Linked DNA regions of Homo sapiens: region 2 is linked to region 1. A link means that fine-mapping ties the variant in region 1 to the expression of a gene that starts in the linked region. Tissue or cell type: whole blood. Region 1 holds a variant in brackets; the other region holds the start of a gene. All regions are shown on one strand. Distances are between the middles of the regions. Region 1 overlaps SETDB2-PHF11 (SETDB2-PHF11 readthrough). Region 2 holds the start of PHF11 (PHD finger protein 11).

Region 1 (12,760 bases):
GCTTGCGTTGATGACTTTTTTAACTTCAAGATAAATCAAAGTAATAAGTTTAACGTATATTAAACCTGTTGAAATGATAATTATGTAAAGATAAATATTCTAGGTTAGTCAAGATTTCTCTTAAGATTTAAGTGCATAAAGAATAGTAATTTAGAAGTATCCGTGAAAAGTTGATAATGAAAGAAATTTGATGAAGGTGAATATTTTATAAATTAGAATCTCCACTACTTATCCAATGGTGTTTTATTTCATTAAGGTAGAACTTGAGAACTCAAGTTTAAATTGTCCCCCACCACCTTCTTCTATAAATGCAAACTTAAGAGGAAAATAATGACATGTATAGTATACTCTTGCCTTCCTAAATTATGACTGCTGAATCATCATATCTACTATATATGACTGGAAGAAGTGGTTCTTCAAGTCAACCCTCTTACAAGACTTAGTGGAATTTGCTTTATCTACTTTAGGCCAAATCCATCACACATTGGCTTATGTGAAACTTTATCATCTTTCACTTTTGGTTTTCCTCTGTTTTTAAACATCTTAGGTATAACAGCACAATTTCACCTTGAAAAAGCACCAAAATTATGGTGTTCCTGAAAAGATCCTATTAAAAGACAGTAGTTTATTTGAACTGGTTATGGAAGGTGACTTTGGGATGTAAGAGTGTTCAACTGTGAGTTTCATCATGTGTGTCCGTTGAGCTTGCTTTTAAGAGCAATGTTTTGCTTTGCTCTCTGGTCCATGAACTCATTTCCATTTGAGTGAGTTCCCTTAGTGAATTTTGTCTCCTGCTTGGAAAGTCTCTCTTCTGAACCTGGAGCCTGAATACATTTTCAGAGCCAAATTACAAGTGGGTGAAGACATGCTACAACTACTATTTTTAGCAATGTTTTTAAATTTGTGTCTATTGGGGTGGGAAGGGGAGTGAGGCCCTAAAGATAGGAATTCACTGATAGCTGAAATAGATACAAGCCTAGGAGCCCCAGCCCCCTTTTCTTGACCATATCACAAGTGATTGAAGCCCAGTGAATTAGTCGGTTAGAATTCGTTCTACAACATGATAGAACTTTTCTTACTAGCTTCAGAAATGCACATTGATTTGTGCTATGATGGGTGGTGTTTGTAACAATCACTGTTCTATAGGCTTATGATCTGAGCAAAATGTGAACTTCAGTATGTTTACTATTGCTCTTACTTGAAAACTTTTTTTCAAAAAAAGCACAAATTAAAGTAGTAAATTCATATCCATAGATAGTTCATTCATTCAACAAATATTTACCAAGTTCCTAATATAAGTGAAGGACCACTTCTCATATTAGATTACTAAGTCATTTGTATGAATATGTGTGGCAGTGAAGAGAACAGGTCTTTCAAAAAGCATTTGATTATTTTTTTTAAATACACTCTCTTATTTTTCTACTTGTTTTTTTGTTAATCATAGCAGGATATGACAACTCTTATTTGAATTGATTTTTTCATCTAATGTAATAATGGAAGCCAAAGTATTCATATTTCTTAAGATAGCCCTAAATGTACTCTTGAACTTCTTACTGGAACAATGTTTGATACTCTAGTATGTAAGCTGTATTTATGTAATATTTAGAACGACATGTTAATAAACAAAGTAACATTAAAACAGGCACATAGAGTTGTTTTTTTCCTTCAAAATCAGTAGTCTGCAGCCTTAAAAAGGAAAGAAATTCTGACACATGGTGCACAGAGGTGAACTTGAGGATATTATGCTGGGTGAAATAAGCCACTCACAGAAAAATACTATGTGATGCCATTTGTGTGATATACTTAGTCAAATTCATTGAGACATAGTAGAATGGTCATTGCCAGGGTCTGAGGGGAGAGGAGAATGGGGAACTTGTTTAATGGATACAGAGTTTCAGTTTTCCAAGATGAAGAGTCCTTTAGGTCAGGGGTCCCCAACCCTCGGGCCACAGACCCATATTCATCCCTGGCGTGTTAGGAAGAGGTCGCACAGCGGGAGGTGAGTGGCGGATGAGTGAGCATTACTGCCTGAGTTCTGCCTCCTGTCAGATCAGTGGCAACATTAGAACATTAGATTCTCATAGGAGTGCAAACCCTACAGTGAACTGAGTATGCAAGGGATCTAGGTTGTGTGCTCCATATGAGAATCTAATGACTGGTGATCTGAGGTGGACCAATTTCATCCCAAAACCATCCTCCCCACCCCTGACCAACCGCCCCATCCCCATGGTCCGTGGAAAAATTGTCTTCCACGAAACCAGTCCCTGGTGCCAAAAAGGTTGGGGACTGCTGCTTTAGGTGCATGGTGGTGATGGTTGCACAAAAATGAATGTTTAATGCCATTGAACCATACATTTAAAAATGATTGGGATGGCAAATTTTAGGTTATATATATATTTTACCATAATAAAAAAAATCAGTGGTGTGATTCTTAATGGGTATCAGGCTAAAAATAGGTACCAGCATGAACATGTCAACTGCTTGATTCTCAACTATACACAAACAAACATCATAGAAATCTTTGGATTTTATTCCTGCTGAAGGGTAGTACAGTTGAACTGGCACAGTAGAAAAATGTGTCTGTACCTTTGGGGGTACTTGAAGGGAAAGGCATATTCCCTATCCTCAAAGAACATATGAATTATTAGGAGAGAGGGAGATAGGTTTAGGAATTAACAACACAATGAGATACTTATAAAGAGCTTTTCATAACAGTCAGTGAGAGAAAACCAAATAGGATGATGTGGTTTGGCTCTGTGTCCCCACCCAACTTATCTTGAATTGTAATCCTCAGTTGTTGAGGGAGACCTGTTGGGAGGTGATTGGATTATGGGGGCGGTTTCCCCATGCTGTTCTCATGCTATTGAGGGAGTTCTTATGAGATCTGATGGTTTTATAAATGGCAGTTCCCCCTGGGCTTTGCGTGCTCTCACTTACTTGCCACTACGTAAGACGGGCCTCTTCCCTTTCCGCCACAATTGTAAGTTTCTTGAGACCTCCCCAGCCATGCGGAACTGAGTCCATTAAACCTGTTTCCTTTATAAATTACCCAGTCTCTGGTATTTCTTCATACCAGTGTGAGAACGGACTAATACAGTTAATAGGGTTAACATGACAAGCAGTTAGTTGTTCTGAAGATAACGCTTGTGTTGGATAGGGGAAAATATAAAGTGTCCTTTTAGCTCATCTCCAAAACAAAAAGAGGCACAAGAGATGGGGGCTAATGAGCCTTCCAGAGCTTATCATAATTAAGTTTGGTTAGAATGGAGAAAATAAGACAGAAATGTTAGCAAGGGGAGTGTGTGCGTGCATGGGTGTGTTTTAACATTTATTTCCCATAGTGCCAGACATTGTGCTCTCTGCTTCACATTTTACTTACTTGTCCATATTTTGTCCCATAAGGTAGGCAGCAGCATTCTCAGATTAAATAATCGGATTCAAGTTTTTCAGTAGTGACATAGCTGAAGTTCATACTCGGCTCCGCCTTATGAACCCATACTCGGGTTTGCCCAGTAGCCAGCCTCATGGCCACCAAACACATGGTGCTCCATGGTGCACAGTTACATGCTGTGTGAGTCACAGGTTAAACGTGAAAGTAAAGTGGGGGACAAAGGTTTTTTTTTTTAAATAAAGATCATGACATCAGAATGATTAGTCAGATAAACTTTGCTAAGATGGCTGGGCGTGGTGGCTCACGCCTGTAATCCCAGCACTTTGGGAGGCCGAGGCAGGCAGATCACGAGGTCAAGAGATCGAGACCATCCTGGCCAACATGGTGAAACCCCATCTCTACTAAAAATACAAAAATTAGCTGGGCATGGTGGTGCGCGCCTGTAGTCCCAGCTACTTGGGAGGCTGAGGCAGGAGAATCGCTTGAACCTAGGAGGCAGAGGTTGCAGTGAGCCGAGATCACACCACTGCACTCCAGCCTGGCAACAAAGTGAGACTCCGTCTTAAACAAAACAAAACAACAACCAAAAACTTTGCTAAGACTTAATATCAGGATAGGAAGCTGAAGCTACAGTAATCAATAATCATCTAGACTAGCGGAAATCTGTTCAGAGGGTGTTGGATGGGGTCTTCACTTCTGTAGTTTTTAAAGTGCCCCACATGATTCTGATGTGCGGCCGGATTTGAAATCCACTGGTTTAGATTTTGTCCCTAAGATATAAGAACTTAGGCTAGGGCTGCCATTACAACTGGAATGGACTGTTCTTTTTCATCTCCTGCAAATATTTTTCCAGTACTTATTTATTACATGTCAGACACCATGCTTGGAGACTCAGTTAAAACCCATTTTGAGACGCAGCATTATTGAAAATCAGAGTACCATGGTAAAAAATGAGAACTGTGAATGTTAAGTTTTCAGGGGTCAGACGTGATAGTGTGGGCATAAAAACCAGAATCGTATATTAGATTGAGAAAAATGTAACTGTCAATTTTTTTTTTCATTCTTGCATACTCCCGATAATGTTCTTATTCAGAGTCCAATTTAAAATTTAGGTGTCTGTTTTGAAGATGATGAATCTCCACGTGATAACTGTGGCTGAAAAGAGACTTTTCAAAAGCAGACTTTGTGACACGAAAACAGGCAAATTTGGTACAAGTAAAGTAGTATAATCCAAATTTATTATATCTAAGAGGCTATCATGGGCTGTAAGTAGAATCAAAGGTTAAGAACATTTTATGCACTTATTCCACAAACATTTACTGAGCATACTAGGTGCTGGGAATGTGACAGTGAGCAAAAAACACAAGAGTGTGCAAAGAGTGATCAAAATGTCAACCAGTAAGAACAGGGAAGAGCTGCTGAGGCCAAGAGGAGACGACTAGTTCTAAAGATGTGTGGATTTCACAGCCTGGTCTCTGGTTTTGAGCCTGATTGCAATTTGACATGACTCTTGGCTTAGGAAACGGTAATCCCTAATAAGACAGGGATGATATTGATGTAGAACTTGACATAAGATCTCTATTTTCTTGAAAAGAGCACAAGGTTTGTTTTAAGTCCTGAAGTAGCTCAATCTCTTCCTTCAACTGCTGCCACCTTTGTTGAGATGCATGAATTTTTTTCTCTATTGCTATGAAAAGAAGAAATAAAATTATTTCAGCTTATTCAGTAGTTTTATTAGAAATAATGTACCATTTCTAGCCCCTTTCACTTGCAGGTACAGATACACAATCCTCGTGCCTCTGGTGAAAAGGATCCAGAGCCTTATGGGCAGGAGCTGGTTTCTTTATGCCTTCACTTCCTCCTTCTAATTCAGGACAGAATTCTAACATTTATCATACACAAAGCTGTTCAGTAAACCCTTAAGATTTTGTGCACATTTATAGCAGAACAAGTCCCTTTGT[A/T]TATCTTTGAGAACTTGAAAACAGTGACTGTATAACCTTCATGCTATACTATATCCATTTATTGAGAGATGATAATTGGAGAATGTGGCTAGAATACCAAGGTTAAGGACAAATCCTTCCTAAAAATGTGTCCAATTTTTAATGTTACATAAAGGCTTTTGGTTTCATTTAGAAATAGGAAGGCTTTTAATTGTGGAAACTTAGAAAAGCTTAGGAGGAAGATACTTAGGCTTTATAAATAACAAATAGTAGTCAATGGCAATGTAATTTTTAAAAGCCTCAAAATCGAACAGTTACACACATATACAAACTTTATTCAGAATAACTGCATACGTATAGTTAACTTAAAATATGAGTAAGGCTAAATTAAGCAAGTTTTTATCAACCAGGGTAGTGAAACCCAACTTAAGCCTTTTAAGTTGAATCTCATGCAGTTCTAAGTAGTGGCACCCCCGCCATACTACACTATAATATATGTACTCCCACCTAATCCATCCAAGTAGTGATGTGTGACATGTTCCCTTACATGAAAGAAAAACACACATGGAAGTCCCCTACAAAATAACTCTTTTTAGAAAAAAATTTTTAAGGCTGCTTTAAAAAAATATGGATACTGCTATATATTAGCAGACATCCTCAAAAGACTATTAAGACAGACACTCTTTTTGGTAGATTTTTCAAAGTATTTTTCCTGCTGGTTATAAATGTAGTAAAAAATTCAAATAGAAATGTATAATATAGAAGCCAAAATGAGAAAGGTTGTGTATGTTGAGACAGGGATATGAACTAATGATTTCTTCACAGGGAAATCTTATTGTCTTCCTACCATATGCTGGAGAGACAGATGCATCTGTGGAAATGCAGAGTGTGGAGGGCACTCACTCTGTTGTGCAACTTCAGGGGGAGCCATCCACCAATGCTGTTTGACTCTGTGCCCGGCCTGCCCAGCTGTGTGTGGCAGCCTTGATAGAGAAGTCAGACCAGACTCATAAACAAGTGGAGGTGTAGCCTGTCTTGAGGGCATCTTAATGCTGAAAGGAGGACTCACTCAATAAATGGTTGATATTTAATAGGAAGGTTAAATCTCCCTCCTCCAAACCAAACGAGATTTTCTACTGCAAACATTTCTTGGCTATTCTTACTTGCTCATTTTTTGTTTGTTTGTTTTTGTTTTTTTTTTTTCTGATGAACTTTAAATCAGTCGTAACCCTCCCTGATAAGAAATTAAATTAGATTTGAGGATTAATAGTGGGAGAATTAAAATTTTGACCTATCTCACCAAGCGAGAGGGAGGCAAGCGGAGGGATGGTTTATCATAGCCTCGCCACCCAAGAGCAGAGAAGCCGCAGGAAGCTTTACCAGCTCCTGCCTGGGCCACACACAGGCCAAAATATGCTCCAATTTTTGAATCAATTTTTTGTTGTCTCTACTTTTTTAATGAGTTTTTCTCATTATAAAAGTATTTGTGTGTATATAGAAAATCTGGAAAATATAGCAGTAAAAGAACAGACAAAAATCACTATATTCCAACTACCTACAACCAACTACTGTCTCCACCAGGTGCAGCTTTTGTCTGTGCACATGTACCTCGATATTTTTTTCCTGTGTGTGTGGGCAGGTGGGCGGGGTCATACTGTTTTTGTAATTGGCTTTTCTCATTTAAGAAAACAATGAACATTCTTCTAAAATATTTTTATCACCTGTACAGTATATTGTTTCAATATCGTGATAAATATTTCTCAAAACTATGCTGCTCAGATGTTATATAACTCATATACCTGCTTGAAAATTTACAAATGTGTCTTCGAACAATCTACAGTCAAAAAGTGCACTCCCGATTTCTTCATAGTCTGGAGGGAGAGAAACATTTTCAATATTAAACAGTTTGTATAGGCAGAAACTCCTCCATTTATATATGTAATCCAAAACAGGGGAAAGGAAAGAGAGCAGTCATGTGCCATGGAACTTTAATGTTAGATGGCAACAGCAGCAGCAGCACTACAGGGAAGCTGTCAGAAATGTAATTCTTGGCATTTCTCTTTTTTCTTTTTTTTTTTTTTTTTTTTTTGAGACAGAATCTCACCCTGTTGCCCAGACTGGAGTGCAGTGGTGCGATCTTGGCTCACTGCAACCTCTGCCTCCTGGGTTCAAGCGATTCTCATGTCTCAGCCTCCCAAGTAGTTGGGATTGCAGGCGCGCACCGCCACGCCCGGCTAATTTTTGTATTTTTAGTAGAGACAGGGTTTTGCCATGTTGGCCAGGCTGGTCTCGAACTGCTGACCACAGATGATCCACTCACCTCGGGCTCCCAAAGTGCTGGGATTACAGGCGTGAGCCACCGCGCCTGGCCCCCAATTCTTGGTATTTGTACTGAATCAGAATCTCTGTGGGATAGGCCCAGCTATCTGTGTCCTCACCAGCCCTACAGGTGGTTCTCAGGCACACTGTTTGGGAAGTGCTTGGTCTAGAGGAAATAAATGAATAAAATAGTATAATAAATGAGCTTTTGGAAATGCTTACTATTTATTTCACTTTTTGGTTTTGCCCTATAGAAAATAATCCCATTCAAATAAACATTTTTTATATTGTTGCCTACAATATAAGCTGTCCAGCTTGTCCTTGTAAAATAACTATATTTATAATAAAGGTTTTAAACTCATGGGATATAAGTTATAAGAAAGCTAAGTAAGGCTGGGCACAGTGACTCACACCTGTAATCCCCGCACTTTGGGAGGCCAAGGCGGGCAGATCACATGAGATCAGGAGTTCAAGACCAGCCTGGCCAACATGGTGAAACTCCATCTCTACTAAAAATACAAAAATTAGCCGAGTGTGTTGGCACATGTCTGTAATCTTAGCTACTCTGGAGACTAAGGCAAGAGAATCACTTAAACCCTGGAGGCAGAGGTTGCAATGAGCTGAGATCATGCCACTGCACTTCAGCCTGGGAGAGAGAGCGAGACTCTGCCTCAAAAACAAACAAACAAAAAGCTAAGTAGCTATATACCTGCACATACAAATGGAACTTTGACTTCCCAAAGAGCCCTTAAGAAAGAAACTTCTTTAACAAAGTACATCTTTAAACCAAACATCAGTCAAAACATTAAAATTCCTTCTTCTATACTTTAAAGTTTGAGTTAACCTTATTTAAAAAAGGACACTTGGCTTATTAAGGAATAGAATTGGATTCCAAAATCAAAACTGTAACATAACACTGTTCTCAGATCTTAGCAACAGGAATGCAGGGCGGTGGCAGGGGAGCATATGTGACCGAATCAATCTCTGAATGGCACATTCTCTTAGTGGCCAACCTGTTAGACACCTCTGGAAAATGTACCACAACTCTCAGGGCATGAGGTTACTTTTGACTAAATTACTGAGTTTGTAAATTACCCACATCCTGTTGATTTATGAAGGATAGTAGATCTGGTCCAATTATTTTATTAAAGAATGAGGTAAAGGGCCAGGCATGGTGGCTCATGCCTGTAATCCAAGCACTTTGGGAGGCCGAGGTGGACGGATCACCTGAGGTCAGGAGTTCAAGACCAGCCTGGCCAACATGGTGAAACCTTGTCTCTACTAAAAATACAGAAAATTAGCCAGGCGTAGTGGCGTGTGCCTGAAATCCCAGCTACTCAGGAGGCTGAGACAGGAAAATCGCTTGAACTTGGGAGGCAGAGGCTGCAGTGAGGCAAGATCGCACCACTGCACTCTAGCCTGGGCAACAAGGGCGAAACTCCGTCTTAAAAAAAAAAAAAAGAATGAGGTAAAGGTAAAGAATGACAAGCTGGACAGCTTATATTGTAGGCAACAATATAAAAAATGTTTATTTGAATGGGATTATTTTCTATAGGGCAAAACCAAAAAGTGAAATAAATAGTAAGCATTTCCAAAAGCTGATAGAAGAAAAAAGTAGTATAGGAAGAAAATGGGCCTTTTTTTTTTTCTTGGGTTTGTTTTGTTTTAAATCTAGATCTGGGAGAAGTCTCTATACTTCGAAATATTGCTCTTCATCAGTACCTGATTCTGAAGTAGTCTCATCCATGAGTTTTTCTGGAATTGAATGAACTTTGTCTAATATTTCTTCAAGTAAGTAATTAAGAAGTCCTGCTTCCTTGCATTTCTTAAGAAAAGGAACTTTCACAGTTGCATCTAAGAATAAGACAAACATTTGAGAAGGAAATAGTCTTAGGGCAGCTAATCATAAATTACTTTATGCTTATTTCTTCAGACCTTGCCTAGTGGTGGATGCACATACTTAGTAAAATAATACAGCACCTTCACCCTTTTTATTAATTATAATTTCATCATACCTCATTTTTTTTGGCCAGCTGAAACAATGAATAAAATGTTACAAAAAGTAAAAATGAAAATTTCTCTGCTTACAATAACTATATGAATTAAGAGGCTTTTTTAAACATATAAAACTGTAACTTTTTAAATTTCAATACCTTTTGGGGAACAGGTGGTTTCAGGTTACATGGATAAGTTCTTCAGTGGTGATTTCTGAGATGTTGGTGCACCTGTCACCTGAGCAGTGTACACTGTACCCGATATGTAGTTGAATTAAGAGGATTTTTAAAAATTACCCTTAAGTCTTTGACATAACAGCCCCTGTCACTTCTTGTCACAGTTTGTATGTGTTGTTAGTGGAATGTCTATTTCTTTAAAGAACAGAGAACTACAGTTACAGGGGTCACAGTGTGAGGGGTGACACATTGCTGGATTCTGAGCTCAGGCAAGCCTGTCTGTGTCTTTATTAATAGAAGTCTATCTTTTCTTAATACTGAATGCAATGGACCATTCCAACCTAAGTTATCTTGATATGCTGGGATTACAATAGAGTGGACAGTTGCGATAAAGATTTATACTCATTAATTACCACAAGCCTAGAAGAATAAAGATTTAGGCGGGATACCAAGTTTGAAACAGGTGGGTTGACATTTTTATAAGTATTGTAGGCCATATTTGTTACAGACAACACTTAGCGCAAACCTGTGTGTCTGCCATGCTCTTCTTTCACTTGTCTTATGAATGTATTACATTTCATTGTTTCGGGTGGCTAGGAGAGAAAATCAAGATTGCATTACATTGATTTTAATATTGCATAAAATGAAAACCAGTCTTTTGCTGTGCATAACTAAATGATATGCCTACAGTAAAAATCATGCCCTGGCTGGGCGCGGTGTCTCACGCCTGTAATCTCAGCACTTTGGGAGGGCAAGATGGGCAGATCACAAGGTCAGGAGTTCGAGACCAGCCTGGACAACAGGGTGAAACCTTGTTGCTACTAAAAATACAAAAATTAGCCAGGCGTGGTGGTGCATGCCTGTAATCCCAGCTACTCAGGAGGCTGGGGCAGGAGAATCACTTGAATCCAGGAGGCAGAGGTTGCAGTGAGCTTAGATCACACCATTGCACTCCATCCTGGGTGACAGAGAGAGACTCTGTCTCAAAAAAAAAAAAAAACAAAAAAACCCCATATTCATATTTAGATGTAAACATCAAATATATTTTTGTTTTGTATTATAAAACATTAAGAGGTGTTTGACAAGCACCCCTTGTATAAACAGGAGGAGGTGAAGGTTGCTGGCGCATATGAATTTAGCTTATATGTGCTGATGTGTAAAAACTCAAATCCCCAAAATATTTTCATACATTTTATACATAATCCAGAAATTTATAAGAGCTACAGATTTGGTCAGGTGTGGGTCATGCAGCTGGGAAATACTTGGCTCCATAAGGATGTTTGACTGCACCCTCTGCCCGTTTTAACTGTAAGCACCTGTGGGGTCAGATGCTCTCACTAGTTTGGTGCCAGGGAATTTATAGGAGCTCGGAGAATGTCACCTCCTGAAGGTTATGTGCTTGGAACTTCCAGCTTCATTTTCATGCTCATCTCATCATGATTCTATCATCTAGGAATTATCTAAGAGCTTCCCGACTATGGGATTCTTCCTAAAAAGGCAACCTCAGGAGCAGCCTTAGCTGAGAACACAAATGAAGAATGTTCTTCAAAGGCTCTCTGTTTGGACGATTTGGAAAGTACCTTTCACCTGACATTCAGACTGGTTTAAATAAGGACTCTGTATGAAGAAATGCAAAGCTATAAAAACTAAGTCAAATTACCTGTACATGATTGCCTGAGAGGGGTTTCTTCCTTCCTCTTTTTCTTTTCACTCCTGAAAATTTAGCTAAAAATATAAACCATTTAAAAATTGGAATCCATAAAGGAAAAGATTACTGTTTGACTACATGAAATATACAACTCATATGCCAAAAGTTTTTACAAAGTCAAAAGATATGGCAAACTTCAACTAAGTGTTTGCAGCACTTATGATAAAGGGTTAATTTTTAAAAAAGATATTATAAGTTTAATGCAAAACAGGTAAATAATTGAGTAGAAAAATTGGCACATGGGGAACTCTCTGGGGAGAGGGTTCATTGAATAGAAAAATGAACAAATTGGGTCATAGGAAAACAAATATAATTGGTGAAAAGATATGGGAATGCACTCAATTTCACTCAGAAGATATTCAAAGTAAAACAGACTAATAAGGATGAAGATATTTAATAGATGACATTTGCAAGGATTTGGTTAAGTGTGTATTGCTGGTGCTTTTCCCTGTCAATAAACACTGATTTAAAGAAGTATCTGTAATAGCCTTTCCTGCTGAGTTAAAAGGGTAACGACTGAAAAATGATTGTAGAGGTGCTATTTGGAGAATGTTATCACCATAAAATGCAGTTGGCATGACGCAGAACGAAGTCTTCCAACGAGGTCCTGACTCCACTTCACAATGAACATTGCAGATGTAGTGCTGCTAAGACACTGCTGTTCCACTCATGAATGAAAGTATACCCCATGACTCCAGTTAGCCAGGATCCAGTCTGCCTTAATTAGAACTGAAATGCTAACCATGCATCCTTAGGGAATTTTCACTCAGGGAAGGTGCAGCACTTTTAAAATTTTATCTACTGAAAATTCTTATGGAAGAGAAGCAGTCCCAAAAGTCAAGGCTTTTTCCCATGTCTTAGTTTGGTTCTGTGAGCGTAGGGAGAATGAAAGATACCAGGGAATGGTTCAAAGAGAATAGGTCTTGTTCATAAAGAAGAAAAAATTAGTCAGTCATATCACATAGTACACAAAGAAGTTGTCAATTTTCTAGATGTGTAAAATTTTAACTCAAACATTTGTATTTTAATTCAACGAGGCTAGAAAATTAGACTATTCCTTATGTTACATAAATGTTTACCTTTCTTTAAAACCCACAGTGCTAAATTTTAGAAACTTACCACTTTGAGCGATGATCGGGAATTGAGCATGTTGCTGGCAAAGCAGTCTGAAATATTTAATTTCAAAGAATTGTAAAATATTTTTATTTACAGGTTTCAAATATTATGTCTA
Region 2 (10,687 bases), 30 kb after region 1:
AAATTACAACAATCATTTATTTTATGATTTCTGCTCTTGGGTGAGATGGACATAGAAAACACTTACCTCTGTTTTCTTCTAGAATTTTAATTTATTTTAATTAATCAATTTATTTATTTTGAGACAGGGTCTTGCCCTGTCACCCAAGCTTGGAGTGCAGTGGCATGATCATGGCTCACTGCAGCCTCAACCTCCCCAGCTCAAGTGATCCTCTCACCTCAGCCTCCAAAGTAGCTGGGATTACAGGTGCATGCAACCACATCTAGCTAATTTTTAAATTTTTGTGTAGAGGAGGGATCTTGCCATGTTGTCCAGGATGGTTTCGAACTCCTAGGCTCAAGTGATCCTCCCTCCTGAGCCTCCCAAAGTGCTGGGATTACAGGCATGAGGCACCATGTCCTGCCTTAATTTAATTTTAGAATTAAAATATTGGCCGGGCGCGGTGGCTCACACCTGTAATCCCAGCACTTTGGGAGGCCGAGGCGGGTGGATCACCTGAGGTCAGGAGTTCGAGACCAGCCTGACCAACATGGTGAAACCCTGTCTCTACTAAAATTACAAAAATTAGCCGGGCATGGTGGCGGACACCTATAATCCCAGCTACTCGGGAGGCTGAGGCAAGAGAATCACTTGAACCTGGGAGGAGGAGGTTGCAGTGAGCTGAGATTGCACCACTGCATGCTAGCCTGGGCGACAAGGGCGAAACTCCTCAAAAAAACAAAACAAAATGAAACAAAAAAAGAATTAAACTATTCATGAACATAGAATAAATTGTTTTGTAATGTATGAGATGGGAATCTAACTTATATTCATAATGGTTAGCCACTAATTTAAAATCTCCTTTTCATATAGTTGGATCTGTTCCTCCTGTGCTTCTGTTTTATTCCATTGAACAATGCTACACTTAAAATTTTCAATGTTTTAGAATATATGTTAATATTTGACAACACAAAGTCCCCTGCCCTAGGATGAAACTGGGGGAAAAACATCCCAATATTCTAATTACCTCAGACCCAAAATCTACTTTGATAGAATACTGTGTTCTTATTAAAGGACACTCAAAACAGACATTAAAACTTGTAAAGTACAGGCTTAAAAAAAGCCAGTGGGGCTGGGCGTAGTGGCTCACACCTATAATCCCAGCACTTTGGGAGGCCGAGGCAGGCGGATCACCTGAGGTCGGGAGTTCAAGAGCAGCCTGACAAACATGGAGAAACCCCGTCTCTACTAAAAATACAAAATTAGCCAGGCGTGGTGGTGCATGCCTGTAATCCCCGCTACTCGGGAGGCTGAGGCAGGAGAATCGCTTGAATCTGGGAGGTGGAGGTTGCGGTGAGCCGAGATCGCACCATTGCACTCCAGCCTAGGCGATGAGAACAAAACTCCATTTCAGAAAAAAAAAAACCAAAAAAAAAAAAAAACAAAAGTTGGTGACTCCCAAATTAAAAGCGATACTATCTGACAGGATATGCAGCTGCCTCTTGTTGTATAAGGGCTGAACATTTTTGTACAACATTGCTTGTTTCTGTGCACTGGGCAGAGCTGTCAAGTCACTGATACCTGAGCTGAGCTCCCAAGTACTTGGGTTCCAAGAGTCTTGGCATCTGGGAATACAGAGGTGGTTTGTATTCTCTGACAACGGGGAATACAGAGAAGAACAAGACAGACAAGACAGATATGCTGACAACACTGCTGTGCTAGACCCAGAGTTTGTCTTCAGTGCAGATGGATTAAAAACATGGGGTGGGACCCACAGGTTCTCCCTAGTGGCTTTTTCCTGCTAAATCCCCCCATATCACAGTGTCTTAATGGATTTCGGCTCTTCTAGCTCTTTTGATCTTCTAGACTGGAGGAAGTGTGTAATTCTCTGCAGTTGGAGGAGTCACACTGAGGACTTTTACACAGGCATCTCTCACTATGGGAGTCACACTGAGGACTTTTACACAGACAGGCATCTCTCACTATCTGAACTCTTGCTATGTGTTATCCGAAACTCATGGACCACATACATTTGGACAGTTTGGTATCCCTCACCATCTGAACTCAGGAACTGTACAGATTCAGAGAGGGAGGGATACCTAAAGGTGTGTCATGAAGGCTGAGGTATTTTAGGGAAGAGCCCATTGGTTTTCATCAGTAGCTGGGACCAAGAATAGTCAGCAGGGCTTTCCAGGCTCCTTTCTAGGGGGGTTTAGCAACCCTGAGGACTCACAGAGCCTGACCCGACAAGATTGCAGAATTTTAGAATTCTCACAAATGAAACTGAGAGCCAAGAAAGTTTATACAGAATGAAACCACAGAAAGATCACAAGCCTGGAATATAAGAACTATGACTAATTCAAACAACACAGTGATTCTTAATCTCTCCGGCAATCTGCAGGCCCTCTTCAATGTGGAAATGGATTGCCGAGGCTCTAGCTTCTACTCTTAAAGCCCTCCAGCCAAGGGTAATCCACCCAGGGCACAGAATCTGGGGTAGCCAGGAAGCGTGGTCAAGGAACACATTCTGCCACTAAAGAAATGGGTGAAACAGTTGGAATGGGATTCACTAATCCTATCATTTCATTTAGAATCCCCTTCCAGTATAGATTTGTTCTGGACTGGTAGGTAACTAATTTATGGTGCTGGTTTGGAGATTTCCTCCTTTCTTCTCCTTTTATCATTAGTGTTTATTGCAATTTACTATTTTAGTTCTTCCACTGTTTGCTGGATGTGTAGAAGCCAATTTTATCACTGGTCCAGTGAATGCCTACCTGAACTGGATACAGACCAAAACAGTAGACATTACCTAGAGGCTTGGCAAGGAACTTGGTAATGGCCTTGGAGAATGAATGGTTCCATCACATTATCTCAGGATGAAGTGGCTAGATATGACTTTGGCAGAAGTTAAGTGTGACTGAATTTGGTTTTGGTATAGCTAGAATTCATTACTGGGAACAGAATGCATCACTGGGAATATCTTTAGAATGTATAAATAGGAATAAGGATGTGTGTGTTATAGAGGAGGGACCATGGGGAGCCTAAGGATAGGATATTCAATGGACTCCTTTAGGGTATCTGTTCAGCTCACAATGATGCGTACACAATGACCCCCAGCAGGCATGTTTGTACTTCATTCCTCTAGACATAGCTGATAGTCCCAGAGGACCTGCTCATCTCTCAGATATACAGAATTCAGGATAGAAGATTTCAGTTCAGATTGGGCTGGTTTCTTAAAGAAGATGTAAAAACTGAGAGGCTGCAAGGGCAGCCATCTTCTATACCATCACCAGGAAAACTGGACCAGAGAAAGAGAAGAACAAAGCAGATACACTGAGAGATGCAGAAATAAGAGATAAAGGAGAGTGTTGTCAAAGTTTATAATGGCTTCTCAGGTCCTAGTCCTCAGCCCTTTCTGTAAGATGCTAAAGTATCCATGCTCTGGGGGTCTGTGAGTCTGGTTTTCCTGCTTACTACTACTAAGCATCCCTCATGCTTAAATTACATCAAATTGTTTTTGTAGTACTTGCAGCCAGTACGTGCTTATTAACACTGGAAGGACCATGACTTACTTGATCTGTGTGTGTGCACTCACATGTTTATATGTGTGTGTGCCCATGTGTGTTTAAGAGAAAGACAGTGCTGGCAGCGGTGTGGAAGGTGGACTGCCTTACCCTCAGGGTCTTTCACCTAGTCTATTCCAGTGATCTCTTGTCCTTGTCTCTATTTTCCCTGTCATGATCCCACTGCATTCTTTATATTACTGTCAGAATGATCTATCTGAAATGTATTACGTTACTGTCAGAATGATCTACCTGAAATGCACTATGCTACTGTCAGAATGATCTACCTGAAATGTACTAGGTTACTGTCAGAATGATCTACCTGAAATGTACCAGGTCACTGTCAGAATGATCTAACGGAAATGTACTAGGTTACAGTCAGAATGATCTATCTGAAATGTACTAGGTTACTGTCAGAATGATCTACTGGAAATGTACTAGGTTACTGTCAGAATGATCTACCGGAAATGTACTAGGTTACTGTCAGAATGATTTACCAGAAATGTGCTAGGTTACTGTCAGAATGATCTACCGGAAATGTACTATGTTACTGTCAGAATGATCTACCTGAAATGGACATCTGCTCATATTTCCCCATCACCTACAGAAGTCAAGCTCCGTAGTGTTATATACAAGTACATTCATTCCTTCAACAAATATTTAATGAGGACTTACTATTATTTAATATTTAATGAGTACCTACTATGTCCTACTACTACTACTAGGCCAACCAGTCTAGGCACTAAGGATAGAAGAGAGTAAGACGAATTTACATGCCAGTGGCCAGTGGTAGAGACAGGCATTAAACAAGTTTTGTTTTGTTTTCCAGGTAGTGATAAGTACTATAGAGAAAGAATAGAGCAGAAGGAGGTAGAGAGTGACAGGAGCAGGGGCAAGGGGTGCTCTTTTAGACAGGATGGGCAGGCAAGGTTGAGGGAAGATGTATATGAGCAGACACCTGAATATGATGGGGAACTGAAAATGGGATAATGTGGCAATGAGTTTTCCTTGCAGAGAATAGCAAATGGAAAGATCCTGAGGCAGGGACAGCTTTGGTGGCTTAGAGGACCTACAAGGTAGCAGGGTAGCAGAGTCATTAAGATGGGCAGGAGTCAAATCAGATAAGGACATGGGGTAAACTGCAGGCCAGGCTCATAGATTGTTCTGAGAGTCATGGGAGACTATTGGTGGGTTTTGAGTAGGAGAATCACATTTGCTTTTTGTTTTTCAAAAAGCATTTTGGCCGCTCTGCAGGCCTGCCTGTATTAAAGGCTAGAATAGAAGCCAGGAAAGCAATAGTCCAGACAGAAGATCATGATGGCGTAGGCTTGGGTGGCAGTAATGGAAGTGGTGAGAAGCAGTCAGGCTCCAGATACAGTCAGGCTGAACACAGAACTGGCTGGCCCGACTGATGCATTAGAAGGGGTGTCCGGAGGAAAGAGAGGCCCTGAGGAGCCACTAAGGTTTTTGCAAGGAGCACCTGGGCGAATGGAATGGGCTGGTGGTTGAGCAGGTTTGGAGTACCTGAATACAGTGGAGGAAACAAGAATTCTCTTTGGGACATACTCAGTTTGAGATCATTTCAGAAATGGAAGAAGTTGGTTATACCAGTCTGGAGTTTGAGGAAGAGGTCAGGATGGAAGCGCATCTCCCGTGACTTACCTTACAGTCCATATGTATACCAATGAATGAAATATCCAACTGATTGGCTTGTGGTTGCCACGTATGATGTTTACGTGTGACGTTTTGTGGTTTGGTGCCTTTGTGTCATCCTCTCTGCTGGGAACACCCCTTCAACTTTTCCACCTTTGGCTGAGTCTTGCCCTTTAAAGGTAAGCCCATGAAACATGGAGAAACCCTCTCTACTAAAAATACAAAATTAGCTGGGCGTGGTGGCACATGCCTGTAATCCCATCCACTCGGGAGGCTGAGGCAGGAGAATCGCTTGAACCCGGGAGGCAGAGGTTGCAGTGGGCCGAGATAGCGCCTTTGCACTCCAGCCTGGGCAACAAGAGTGAAACTCCTCTCAAAAAAAAAAAAAAAAAAAAAGGGTAAGCCCAGCCATCCTCTCCTCAAAAAGCTTTCCCTGAAGACTGGGAGTCAGGAGTCTCTCATCTGTACCTCTGTGGTTCTGACCTCCTCATTAAAGTTGCCTAGTAGAGTCTCTAGGGCAGGGTCTGCCTAACTCATCTTTGTATGCTCAGGACCTTGCCCTGAGCCTGGCACACCGTTTGGAGCTATACACACACGCAAGGGCAGGAACCCATCAGAAGACCCACCCACTCAAGTAGAGGGCCGGGGAGGACTGGAACGACTGGAGAAGGGGAGACGGGTTCCAGTCACGTCCTCCGTGAACGTGAGACCCAGCTCTTCCCTCAGGGCCGCCCCCTGCCTCACCGCATCAGGGCGCCCCTCCACTGTCCTGGTTTACCGGTGAGCGGAGGGGCGCTAGGAGAGTTGACATCGGTTGTGGTGGAAGCACTGGGCTGTCACCCGCGGGGGAGGTAAACCGAAGCGTGCCCACCACTCGCGCGAAACCATGGGCAGTCAGAGCCACCTGTGGAACTGGCCTGGGCCGCGCCCTGTCCTCTGGCCCCCTCCCCCACCAACAGGCACGCGAGTGGTGAGCCAAGTTCGTCCAGCGCCGCCCCGGCGTCTAGGGCCCCGGCCCGGAGTAGGGGCAGGTCGGGCCCCCATGCGGCCACGACCGGAAGGCAGGCCCCTTGACCGGGCCCGTCGCTGCCCAGCCCCGCCCGCCCGCCCGCCCGCCCCCGCGGTACACACCGGTGGGAAGGAGGAGCGCCTCCTGCGCGGGCCGGGCCTCCGGGCTGCTGGCGCCGAGCACCCTCTCGGGCCGGGGCGGCGACGCCTGGGCCATGACTGTGCTGCAGCTGCGGGTGGCGGCCGGATAGCGAGATCCCGGAAGTGCCCCAGCTGCACTAGGTTTCGTTTTCTTAAATCTGGGCTGTCGCTTTGAGTCACTAGCCGGCCCGGGGAAAGTTGGGTGTGCAGAGAGGGGTTGTCACACACACTGCTCCAGATTCCAGTCTAGTCTTAATTTGAATAGCTTAAAAAACCCAAACGCCGGGAGCAGTGGCTCACGCCTGTAATCCCAGCACTTTGGGAGGCCGAGGAGGGCGGATCACGAGGTCAGGAGTTCAACACCAGCCTAACCAACATGGTGAAACCCCGTCTCTACTAAAAATACAAAAATTAGCTGGGCATGGTGGCGGGTGCCTGTAATCCCAGCTACTCCAGACACTGAGGCATGAGAATCGCTTGAATCGGGAGGCGGGGCTTGCAGTGAGCCGAGATCGCGCCACTACACTCCAGCCTGGGCTACAGAGCGGGACTCCGTCTCAAAACAAACAAACAAACAAACACACACAAAAAACAAACAAACAAAAAAACCCCAAACGCCAGGCTTCCCTACTCCACCCCCCACAACACAGCGGGAGAAACAATCACTCTCCTGAGGGTTCCTCCTAAAAACTATCATACTGGCCGGGTGGGCGCGGTGGCTCACGCCTGTAGTTCCAGGACTTTGGGAGGCCGAGGTGGGCGAATCACGAGGTCAGGAGTTCGAGACCAGCCTGGTCAACATGGTGAAACCCCGTCTCTACTAAAAATACAAAAATTAGCCGGGCTTGGTGGCGGGCGCCTGTAATCCCAGCTACTCGGGAGTCTGAGGCAGGAGAATCGCTTGAACCCGGGAGGCGGGGGTTGCAGTGAGCCAAGATCGCGCCACTGCACTCCTGCCTAGGCGACAGAGCCAGACTCCCTCTCAAAAAAAAAAAAAAAAAAAAAAAAATTATCATACCGAGTTTGGCTTAAATAAGCATATCTTAAAAGGACGCAGAATTAGCCGATCCTAAATCCAGTTGCCAGTAGCAAGCCTTTATTTAGCACCCATAGGGTACAGAGCACCATACAAGATGAGGTTTTCAGTGAATCTAACATAAATGCATATAATTATAGTTAAAAAATAAGTTGTTCTGGAAAAAAGACATATAATAGTTGGTGGTTTGCTGAGGAATTAAAGGAAAACTGGAGGTCTTCCACTTTCAGCAGGTTGTAAAGAGGAAGACTGCCAACTAGGGATAGCAGAAGAGAGAACATTAAAAAGGACAATTTGTATAGTCTTGACAACTATGAAATGAATTGCAGAAGAGTGTGGGGTCTGCAAAACAGGGAAGTGAGCAGACAGACCCTAGCAGCCAATTTTTAAATTTTTTTTTGCCCTCCATGCAGGAGGATGAAAGAGTATTTCTTGCCAGGCCAAAATGAAAGGCCCTTTATAAAGAGACTGACATTAGGGTGTTCCCCAGCAAGATAGCTCAGGTAGGTCATAGTAAAACAAAGAGCCCTTTACCACACTCTCAGCTTATAGTAAGCTTTTTGGTGTTCCACACTTAAATATGAGTAGACTACCAAGACCATTAACTCTGAGGAAAGCCTATAATGTGAACGACCAAAACAAACATACAGGGGAAACAAAGAAACAAACCCTGGAGGACACAGATTATGCCGAAAGAATACAGAGATGCATGCCTGTATGTGTATGTATACGTGTGTGCATATACATACATAAACACACAAACATCTTCAAGGAGATAAAATACTGCAACCATGAGCCAAAATAGGATGCTATTAAAAAAAAAGAATATTCGGAGAAGGGGAGCTCTTAGAAATTAAAAATATGAGACAATATGAGACTAGAAAAATAAAATGCAACAGATGAACTGGAAGATTAAATTGAGAAATGCTCCTAGGAAAAGGTCCTAGCAAGAAGACAGAGCTGAAAGTTAAGAGAAAAGATAGGAAAATTAGAGATCAAATTCTGGAGGTCTAACATCTGGAAAACAGGAATTCCAGAAACAGTGAAGAGATGGGAAATCATTAGTTTCAGACGGAATGATCCCACCAGGCACCTAGTACAAAGGATGAAAATGGACTCTTAACAGGGACAGAACATTGAGACAAAGATAAACCTATAAGCTTCAAGAGAGATAAAAATGGATTATATATGCAAAAGAGAAGGAACAGAATGGCATTCAATTTCCAGTAGTCACCCTGGAAGCCAGAAGACAGATTTTCAGACTCCACAGCAACAGCACTGAAAGCTAGCAGATGTCTTCAAAACTGGGCATGGAGACCACTAAAGAATCCTATACCTTGCCAACCAAAACAGCAATCAGGTATAAGGGTAAAATAAAGACATTGTCAAACACACAGAGATTCAAAACATTTACTTTTCATTTTTCCTTTCCAAAAGCTATTGGAAGAGCTTTACCAATATGTGGAAGAGTAAACCAAGGAAAAGGAAAATAATGGCATCTAACTGGAAACAGATCCCACATAAGAGACAAAGTGAATCTCTGGGGTACTGATGGAAGATGATGGCTATGAACCAGTCCAGACTAAAGCAAATCAAGATTTTAGGAGAAATTTCTCCAAGAAGATAAAACTGACAGAATACCTCATATTTCTAAAGGTCAAATGGACTCCACAGGCAGAGCTCAAAGAAATACTGGCTGATCCATAATATTCCCTTTTGCACAAAAATGGTTCCCATACTGATCAAGCTTTTTTCCCCCATTTCATTTTAGTGCATTGCCTGAAATTCCTGCGTCTCTATGGTGAATAAATGGATTTCTCAACTTTCTTCATCTGTAGGTTGCTGGGCTATGTTTTGCTCCTTTTCCTAGCTGTCTGGTTTCCCAGTCTGCTTGGGCTTCCCAGTCCCCTTTTCCACTAGATAGATGATCACGGCCAAGTAACCTATGGCAAAGTGCTTACTCTTTGCCTTTTTTCTGTAAAAAAAAAAGATTTGCAAATCATGCCCAGGAGATACCAAGGGGCTGTTTCAGATTTCATAGTTCAGAATTGTTTTCGTGTGTGTGTGTGTGTGCTGTTTTTTTTGAGAGAGAGTCTTGCTCTATTGCCCAGGCTGGAAGTACTATGGTGAAATTATGTCTCATTGCAGCCTTGACCTTCTGAGCTCAAATGATCCTCCCACCTCACTCCTGAGTAGCTGAGACTACGGGCACATGCCATCATGCCAGGCTAATTTTTGTATTTTTTGTAGAGACAGGGTTTTGACATGTTGCCCAAGCTGGTCTTGAACCCCTAGGCTCAAGTAATCCACCTGCCTCGGCCTCTCAAAGTGCTGGGATTACAGGTCTGAGCCACCATACCTGGACTTCTTGTGTTTTTTAAGTGAAATTTTTGCCCAGTACAATTACTTCTGGCCTAAATAAGCAACGTGTGACTACTTTCTAGGTTTCCTTTTCAGTAACTGTATCTCTATCTAGAACAAAAATATTCAAGTTCCTCCAGGTTTCTATTCCCTCTTCTCCTATCTGTTTGTATAGAAAGAGTAGAGAAAATCTGTGGGAAAGAAGACTCATTTCAAAGAGCTTGCCAGAATCTTACTTACAGAAGAGCTTCTCCCTCTCCCCACTCAAATGGTTGATGGGACAGTGTTTTATCGATCCAGATATTGCTTCTCCAACAAGTGTTAAAATACTTGGGAGTAATATGCATAAAATTAGATCCTCAGGCGCTGTTGCCCACCTTGTAGCTCATAATGGTAAATTATTTGCCAGGAATTAAAAATCAATTTTGTAGGTAAAAATGTGAAATTTAGCTCTTTGGGGGGGCATGAACTAAAAGGTAACAGTCACAAAAGCAATTAGAAACAGCTGAGTTCTGTTATGACATTTGTTTCTCTTAATATATAATTTGTAAATAAATTATAAATTGTACAGTGGTATTTCATATAAAATATACACTTCCATCCTACTCATGTAAAGTAGCACAGCAGTGAACAAGATACCCTATGTGTATGAAAATATCCTAATTGTGTTCCTGGAATTTCTAAGTCACACAAATAAAATCTGAAATAAAACATAAACCCCATGACAAAGGAAAACGGAGGGGAATTTCCTTGATGGACCTAGACCTTCTTTTGCATGGCTTTAATTTCAGCCTGATAAGCTAATTTCACAAACAGGCGTTAGTTACATATTTATAATATTTTTTTTCTACATTTATTAACCCCACATTGGCAGAAGATTTCCTTCTCAGGCACAGTCCCAGCTTCATAGCCATAATCCCATGTTAGCTCTGTTCTTGCTTTCACA

The links.
Region 2: it holds the start of PHF11, and the variant in region 1 is fine-mapped to the expression of PHF11 in whole blood (INTERVAL, PIP above 0.99).

What each region holds. Positions count from the first base shown.
Region 1 is chr13:49,520,829-49,533,588 of GRCh38, reverse strand. It overlaps SETDB2-PHF11 (SETDB2-PHF11 readthrough), which reads right to left. Exons shown (of 21, transcript NR_135324.2): 15 at 12,649-12,695; 16 at 11,482-11,546; 17 at 10,348-10,414; 18 at 9,373-9,504; 19 at 7,652-7,816; 20 at 7,131-7,202; 21 at 4,613-5,078. It overlaps PHF11 (PHD finger protein 11), which reads right to left. Exons shown (of 10, transcript NM_001040443.3): 5 at 12,649-12,695; 6 at 11,482-11,546; 7 at 10,348-10,414; 8 at 9,373-9,504; 9 at 7,131-7,202; 10 at 4,613-5,078. The coding sequence ends at 4,924. RCBTB1 (RCC1 and BTB domain containing protein 1) reads left to right here. Exons shown (of 13, transcript NM_018191.4): 13 at 1-1,643. Among named protein-coding and RNA genes, the nearest start is that of PHF11, 31 kb to the right of the region's middle. The variant A/T (reference allele first, on the strand shown) is at 5,353.
Region 2 is chr13:49,491,735-49,502,421 of GRCh38, reverse strand. It overlaps PHF11 (PHD finger protein 11), which reads right to left and starts at 6,469. Exons shown (of 10, transcript NM_001040443.3): 1 at 6,327-6,469. The coding sequence starts at 6,420. All of the region lies in intron 12 of SETDB2-PHF11 (SETDB2-PHF11 readthrough), which reads right to left. SETDB2 (SET domain bifurcated histone lysine methyltransferase 2) reads right to left here. Exons shown (of 14, transcript NM_001160308.3): 14 at 7,419-10,687. The coding sequence ends at 10,573. RefSeq lists enhancers at 5,888-5,937, 6,428-6,667, 6,978-7,663 and a silencer at 6,128-6,407.